Regions from separate parts of the Homo sapiens genome. Here regions 2 and 3 are each linked to region 1. The links come from fine-mapping of genetic effects on gene expression. Tissue or cell type: whole blood. Region 1 holds a variant in brackets; each other region holds the start of a gene. All regions are shown on one strand. Distances are between the middles of the regions.

Evidence for each region. PIP is the estimated chance that this variant, and not a neighbour inherited with it, causes the effect.
Region 2: MAP3K2 starts here. The variant in region 1 is fine-mapped to the expression of MAP3K2 in whole blood (TOPMed, PIP above 0.99).
Region 3: it holds the start of MYO7B, and the variant in region 1 is fine-mapped to the expression of MYO7B in whole blood (TOPMed, PIP above 0.99).

The regions. Positions count from the first base shown.
Region 1 is chr2:127,570,225-127,572,980 of GRCh38, reverse strand. The region is part of intron 6 of MYO7B (myosin VIIB); the gene reads right to left. LOC105373609 (a long non-coding RNA gene) reads left to right here and starts at 2,019. Exons shown (of 3, transcript NR_132317.1): 1 at 2,019-2,100. The variant T/C (reference allele first, on the strand shown) is at 1,571.
Region 2 is chr2:127,386,971-127,389,598 of GRCh38, reverse strand. It overlaps MAP3K2 (mitogen-activated protein kinase kinase kinase 2), which reads left to right and starts at 1,624. Exons shown (of 17, transcript NM_001371910.2): 1 at 1,624-2,147. It overlaps MAP3K2-DT (MAP3K2 divergent transcript), which reads right to left and starts at 2,161. Exons shown (of 4, transcript NR_187129.1): 1 at 2,047-2,161; 2 at 601-718; 3 at 414-488. RefSeq lists a silencer at 1,335-2,204.
Region 3 is chr2:127,534,324-127,536,951 of GRCh38, reverse strand. It overlaps MYO7B (myosin VIIB), which reads right to left and starts at 1,269. Exons shown (of 48, transcript NM_001393586.1): 1 at 1,121-1,269. RefSeq lists an enhancer at 387-1,237.

The DNA.
Region 1 (2,756 bases):
TGTCTCTTTAAGAAAGAATCTGATGCAGGCAGTTTTTTTTTTTTTGGTACTAACTGACAGGCTGATCTTAAAATGTACTATATATGGAAAGGTAAATTACCTAGAATAGCCAAGTTTGAAAAAGAATAACAAAATTGGAGGGCACATGCTATCTGATTGCACCGCTTCCTATAGAAATCAAGACAGTGTAGCACTGGTGAAAGAATAGACAGAGAGGGGAATTGAAGATAATAGAGAATCCAGAAACAGCCCCATACATGGATGGTCAGTTGATTTTAGACAGGGGTGCAAAGGTAAGTCAACAGAGAAAAAATAGTCTTTTTGACAAATAGGACTGGAATAATAGAGTATCAACATGCAAAACAAACAAAGAGAGAAGGAGAAAAAGAAAGGAAGGAAGGAGAAAAAGAAAGGAAGGAAGGAGAAAAAGAAAGGAAGGAAGGAGAAAAAGAAAGGAAGGAAGGAGAAAAAGAAAGGAAGGAAGGAGAAAAAGAAAGGAAGGAAGGAGAAAAGATGAGAAAGAAGCAAGGAAGGAAAGACAGAAAAGTCTTTTTTTTTTTTTTTGAGACAGTCTCACTCTGTCGCCCAGGTTGGAGTGCAGTGGTGTGATCTCGGCTCTCTGCAAACTTTGCCTCCTGCGTTCAAGCGATTCTCCTGCCACAGCATCCCGAGTAGATGGGATTATAGGCGCATGCCACCATGCTCAACTAAGTTTTGTATTTTTAGTAGAGATGGGGTTTCCCCATGTTGACCAGGCTGGTCTTGAACTCCTGACCTCAAGCGATCTGACTGCCTTGGCCTCCCAAAGTTCTGGGATTACTGGCATAAGCCATCATGCCCAGCCAAAAGTCTTTTTTTCTATGCTGTGTACCTTGCACCATAGAAAAATATCGGATCACAAATGTAAATCATAAACTGGATCATCAACCTAAATATAAGACCTAAAACTACAAAACATATAGGAAAAACATAGGAGAAAATCTCTGGGTTAGGCAAAGATTTCTTAGATACAACACAAAAAAGCATGACCCATAAAAGGAAAAATTGAACTTCATCAAAATTTAAAACTTCTGCCCTGCAAAAGACCCTGTCTAGAGAATGAAAAGACAAGCCACAAACTCGGACACAATATAAGATGTAACACCTATCTTATAAAGGACTTGTATCCAGAACACAGAACGAACTCTTAAAACTCACTAATGGCCAGGCACAGTGGCTCACGCCTGTAATCCCAGCACTTTGGGAGGCCGAGGCGGGTGGATCACCTGAGGTCGGGAGTTTGAGACCAGCCTGACTAACATGGAGAAACCCCGTCTCTACTAAAAATACAAAATTAACTGGGCGTGGTGGTGCATGCCTATAATTCCAGCTACTCGGGAGGCTGAGGCAGGAGAATCGCTTGAACCTAACAGGCAGAGGTTGCAGTGAGCCGAGATCGTGCCATTGTGCTCCAGCCTGGGCAACAAGAGCGAAACTCCGTCTCAAAAAAATAAAAAACAAACAAACAAAAAACAAACAAGCAAAAAAAAAAAAAAAAACTCACTGGTAAGGAAATAGACCAATTAAAGAA[T/C]ATTAAAGAATAGGCAAAAGATTTGAACTGACACTTCACCAGAGAAGATATACAGAGCGGAGGTAAGCATGAGGAAGGACGCTAACATCCTTAGTCGTCAGGGCCACGGGAGTTACAAGCATGCTCCACACATATCAGAAGGCAGACCAGGTCCTTCACTGTGCCAGGTGCTGGTGGGGACACAGGACAACCAGAATGTTCCTGCTCTGCTGGTGGGAAAGCAAAATGCTGTGAGCATTTTGGAAAACATTTCGGAAGTTTCTGACAAAGTGAAATGGCTCACTTGCCTTTTGAGCCAACAATTTCACTCTTGCATATTTATCCAAGGGAAAGACCAATGTGCACACAAAAACCTGTATGTGAACATTTATAGAGGTTTTACTCCTAGCAGCTAAAAACGATAAACAACCCAGATGTCCTGAACGGGTGGAGAAGCTGTGGTACCTTCACGCAATGGAATTCTACTCAGCATTAAAAAGGAATGAATCACTGATGCAGGCAGCAACAAGGAAGAATCCCAAATAGCCAAGGTAACTAGACACAAAAGGCTACAAACCCTGTGATTTTACTTCTATGACGTTCTGGAAAAGACAAAACTGTGAAGGGGGGCGGGGGAAAGACAAATCAGTAGTTGCCAGGGGAGGGGTTGGGAAGACAGGGTGACTACGAAGGGGTGTGAGAGAAGATCTGGGGGGTGAAGGGAAAATTCTATTTCATGATGATGATGGGAACCACAGGCCTGTATGAGTTTGTCAAAACTCACAAAACTGTACTTGAAAAAGGTGAATATTTACTATATGTAAAGCAAACTTCAGTTGTAAAGAAACGAGAGAGACTGTGCTGTCCAGCAGCTGACAGCCTTGGGGCCGAGGCCACGGGCTTCTGGGCAGCCCCGACTAGACTGAGGCCGGGGTCACCGGGGCCGAAGCCAGGAGCCTTCTAAGGAGCAGTTTGCTCCAGAGCTGCCTGCTGGGTTGGCCAAGACTTAGATCTGGATCACAGCGTGAGCCTCTCCCGACCCAAGCTGCTTCCTCTCTTTTTCCCGTTCATAAGCGTCTGAGCAGCATCCAAGTTTGAAGGCTCATCCTGCCCACTCCTGCTTTCTCCCACTTTGCCTTCTGCAGGTTTACCCCTCAATAAACCTCTTGCAGTCCTCACTCTGGCCCAGCAACTGCTTTCCAGTTCA
Region 2 (2,628 bases), 180 kb after region 1:
TATCTAAGCAAGAGGAAAAGTCACCAATATAAAAGGAGAATGGCGAAAAAGAAAGAATAGCTACTATAACTATACCCACGGGATGTTTCTGAGGAACCCAGAGGTGAATGAAGTCCCCGGGGTGGTAAGTGAGGGAAGGGAGTGGAGAAATGAGCAGCACTATGAGGGGAAAAAATTTATCTCTAGATTACTTAGTAAACAAACACGTTTTTATTGAATGCCTGCTATGTGGTGACCCAGTAACTGTGGAGAACAATATAGATATTTAAGATTTAAATACTATCCTCCGGCGTTCTGAGACCCTCCTTTCTGTGGCATACAGGTCTTAGAATGTTAGATTCAAGAAGGTCTTAGATTTATGCATAAGTCCCCCATTTTTTAAACAAATAGAAGCAAACTGATTTTCCACTGACCTCTGTGTTTCTGAGGTGCACATCCTTGTTCCTGTGACTTTGACACCTCTGTTAATGGGTCTGTAATAAAAATTCCTGGAAGAAACCCAGAGATATTTTGACATTACACAACAGTTTCTCCCTCAGTCTCTGCCCCACAAGTGCCAGCTCCCTTGACCCTCAGAGCCCAAGTTGGGTAGCTCCTTACCTCTGGTTCGGGTGAGTCCCATTCCCATCTCTCTCATTTCAACTGCTCCAGTGGAAATGTGGTCTGGAATATGCATGAAAGGGGTGGATCCAGAATGTACGAAGAAACCAAGAAGAAGCTGAACAGGGAAGAATGGTACAGGAAGTTGTAAGGGGTATTTAAGGAAAGGAGAAGAGATGGGGCGGAAAGGTGCTTTCTGGATCAAAGTAGGGTGAAAACGTCGGGATGCAGGTTAGTCACACCACGGAGGGCCTCACCACTAGTCTGATTAATTTGCATTTTATCCTGTGGGAGATGAGGAGCGAAAGAAAGGGTTTTAGACTCTAGCTTTGGGGGTGGGGTGTCAACTCATGTCTCTGGGCTTAAGTTTCCACATCTGTTAAGCTGGAGAAGTAATACTTGCTGGGCTAACCAATGTACACAACCAGTCATAACCAAGTATCGATGGTGATAAGAACTAAACAGAAAACACAAATAACACTTAGCCAGTCTCCAAGGGGGTGGTTTAAGGTTAGGTGGCAAGCCTGAAGTAATTTCTAAAGTCCCTCAGGAAAAAAATTCTGAAACTTGAGCCACAAATTAAGAGGCAGACGGCTTTTCTCCTTGCAAATGACCTGCCACACAGTCCGTCACTGCCTCTGCTAGCTCTGCTACCCTTGGGCCCTGTCCACAGCCCACGTGGGAGACCTTTTCACGGGATCTACTCGGATGTCTGGGATCTGGCCACTACCGCAGGCTCGAGACAACCCAGGTGCGTATGCGCCGCGCACACGGAACAGCACAGGCTGCCCCGGGGCAGGGGCGGGGGCGGGGCCGAGGCCGGGGCGGAGCCAGGACTGGGAATCCCCGCGCCGTCCGGCCGGTGGGGGCGGTGGCCTGTGTGTGGGCGTGGCGGGCCTCTGCGCAGGCGCCGACCCACTCCCCTGGGCCGGGCGCGCGCCCGCGGCGGGTTCCGCTACCGCCGGGCGGAGGGGTGCGCGCGCACGAGCGAGCGGCCGTGACGTGCGCCGCGCTACGCCCGACGTCACGGGTCCGTGTGTAGTGGCTGCCGGGCTGCCTGCCCTCAGCGGCGGCGCCTGACGAGGGTGCCGCGGCCGCTGGGCGCAGCGTTCGGGGGTTGCACGGCCCGCGGCGGCGACGAAAACAACGACCAGGACGCTCGGCGCCCCTGTCCGCAGAGTCGCCACTCCCGCCTCTTCTCCGGTCTCTAGCGACGCGGGCCCGCGGCTTCCTCCTTTCCTGCCCAGTTCCCGCGGGCCTCGGGGTTGCAGCGGCTAGAAGTGCCGAGGAGCGCCAGGAGGACCCGGCCGGCTGCGAGGATTCACGCGCCCGCCACCCCGCCCGGCCCGGGCTTCATGTGAAAGAGGGACGGGCCTGGCCCCAAGGCCCGCGCCCGACTCCTCGCGCGCCCCTCCGGTCCCCGGGGGCCCTGCGGCAGCCCCCGACCTGGGGCCGCGGTGACAGGCCGCGCTGGGGCGGAGGGGCGGGCTCGGCGGGGGCGGCCCCTCCTTGGGCCTGCGGCTCTCTACGTCCCTGCGGAGCAGCCGGTACGTGCGTGTGTGCGTGCGCGCGCGCTTGTGTGTGTGTGTGTGTGTGTGTGCGCGCGTGTGTGTCGGGGGCCGCGGGCTGGGCGCCGGGAGGGGGGCTGGCGGCGGCCTAAGCGCCGCTCCAGGGGCGGAGATTTCGCTGGGTGATTGCCTAGCTGCGGGAGGGCGGACCTTGGGCCCCCTGCATCCAGTCCTAAAGCCCAGGTCAGCGCGAAGTAGGCTGCTGGGCTGTGTTAGCTGTCAGACACGTACCCTGCAGAGATTTTAGAAGAAAGGTTGCATCTGGTCTTGGGATGAAGCAGAAATGGTACATGCAGTAAGCGAAAAAGTGCTTGTCTTTGCACTGTCACAGTGTGGTAATCTTTTGATGTAAGGTTGTTTCCCCCTTTTCTCTTTACGGAATATTTAGGTAGCACTTAGGGTGCTCTTAGTCTGCGCCCGGCAGTTGTCATGCATTATCTCTCTTCATCTTCCCAGCTCA
Region 3 (2,628 bases), 36 kb after region 1:
CACAGAGCCCCGTGCTAGAGCTGTGGATGCAGCAGGCCCCAAGACAGCCGCCTGGGGAGGATTCTCTTAGAGGTGGCATCTGAGGACAGACGTAGGGCCCCCAGCAGGTCCAGGGAGATGGGGTGGGCTGATGAGCTGAGTGGTTCCTAACAATGATTCACTGAGGGTGTGTGTGAATCTCTGAACTAAAATCCTAAACAAAGTGCAGGGTTCTGATAAATTAGAGCAAAATTCAAGTCCAGGGTTACAAAGTGGAGCCTGAAGGGGAGGCCTCGTCATGGAGAATTTGGGGGATCTGGGTTGGGGGCCCCACACCCACCAGCTGTCTGACCTGGGCCAGCTCTCACAATCTCTGTGTCTCAAGTTTCGTCCTCTGTGAAATGGGGATGGGACACACACCACCTGGACAGCTCAAGGGGGACAGCCCATGTGAGCCCCGGTGCGGTCCCTCTCCTCAGCCACCTCTTCCCCCACCCCCCCCCCCACCACACCCCAGACCTGTCCTGCCTCTCCCTAGGGTCCCAGCCTTCCAGAGGTGACTAAAGCCAATTGCCCAAGGTACATGGGTAAGGCGGATAAGCCTGGGCTTTGGAGTCGAATCCGGCTCTGCTTCTTCCCGTGGGCACCTTCGCTTCCATGGTCCTCAGTCTCTGTGTCCATAAAATGGAGGCAATTCCACCACTGTGTTGCGAGGACGCAGTGGGATGTCACACACGGCACAGCTGACATCTGGCAGGGGCTCATCATGGGACCCAGGCTATCCATGATGTCCCATGATTCCACAGTGAGGCCCTCTAGCTGTGAGGAGGCTTCAGGGTGGGAGCAGCCTTGGCACCTGCCGTTCCCCTCCTGCAGGGAGTTTGCCCTTCTACAGCAGAGGGCTAGACAGCTTCTCCCCCTCCTCCTCCTCCTCAGCCCCCCAGGTGCTGCCCTTCAGCCCGATGGACTGAGTCCCCTGCTGCGGTTTCTGGTTTCCAGGCTCCTGAAGGGCTTCTCCACTCTCTATCCCTCAGACCTGTTCCATCTTATTTCCAGGGGACCTGCCTCCTGCCCAGCGACCCTCTTCAGAGAGGTGACCCCCTACTCCCCGCTGGCAGACACGCCCCCGGCACGCCCTTACCTTGTCAGGATGGGGGTCTGGCTGACTCCCCTTCCCCTCCACCCTGGGCACCCTGAAAGAGCCAGGAAAGGAGGCAATGTTGGGACTCCGGGTGTGTCAGGGAGTAAGGGACAGAGGAAGAAGAGGTAGGGCTCCAAGAGGAAATGACTGGGAGCACTCTGGGCCCACGTAATTTATTACAGGACTTTGTCCCTGGGCTCCAGGCACTTCCACTCCCACACGCCTCCCTCAGCCCCAGCTGGCAGAGCCTCATGATACCTGCTCTTTAACCCAGGCCCCTTCTGCAGAGCAGCGATGCATGCTGCCCGGAGGCCACCAGGGTTTGCAGTCTGTGCACCTGCTCTGGCCACCAGCCAGATCCCATGGTGACAGTCAGCTGACCATCCGGGGGCTCAGCATCTTCCCAGGTGCTGCATGGCAGGAGCTCTGCCCCCAAGCACCCCAAGCTCTAATTGAGGGTGGTAGTATAATATAAAATACAGTATATTTGGTCCTTGTTCCCGGTTGGTGTCACAGAACTCCTAAAACCCTTAGAATTTCCAAAGTGATCGTCGGGCATGGTGGCTCACGCCTGTAATCCCAGCATTTTGGGAGGCCGAGGCAGGCGGATCACAAGGTCAGGAGATCAAGACCATCCTGGCTAACACGGTGAAACCCCATCTCTACTAAAAACACACACACAAAAAAATTAGCTGGGCGTGGTGGCGGGCGCCTGTAGTCCCAGCTGGAGGTTGAGGAAGGAGAATGGCGTGAACCGGGGAGGTGGAGCTTGCAGTGAGCCAAGATCGGGCCACTGCACTCCAGCCTGGGTGACAGAGCGAGACTCCGTCTCAAACAAACAAACAAACAAAAAATTTCCCAAGTGATCATCTCATAATGAGTCCGTTTGATAACACCTGAAGTTATGCTGAGGAGGTGACCATGTGGGGGCCCTACCTAGCCTCAGCATGGGGTCAGTCACCAGAAAGACCTAGTGAATAGAGGGTTGGAACTTTCAGCCCCGCCTACTGACCTCTGGGAAGGTAAAACTCTTGAACAAGATTTGACAAGCTTCCACACATCTGAGGTCCCTGGGGGGTGGCATGCGGGAGAGGGCATGGAAGCTCCATGACCTTCCCACACAACTCACCTGTGCGTGTTTATTCGGCTGCTCATCTGTAATCCTTTGTAAAATCTTTTCCCACGAACTGGTCAATATGAGTGCCGTCCTGAGTTCCATGAGCTATGCTAGCAAATCCAACCTCAGGTGTGGGGCATGGGAACCCCGATTTATAGCCAATTGGTCAGAAGTATAGGTGGCAACCTAGGACTTGAGACTGCATTTGAAGTGGGGCAGTTTTGTGGGACTGAGCCCTTAACCTGTGGGATCTATGACTCCAGGTTGACAGTGTCTGATTGAATTGAATTATAGGACATCCAGACGGAGTCTGCTGGAGAACTGCTTGGACACCTGGTCAAGAGAGTGTTCTGTGTTGAGTGTGAAAGGAGCATACACCTGGGACATGTCT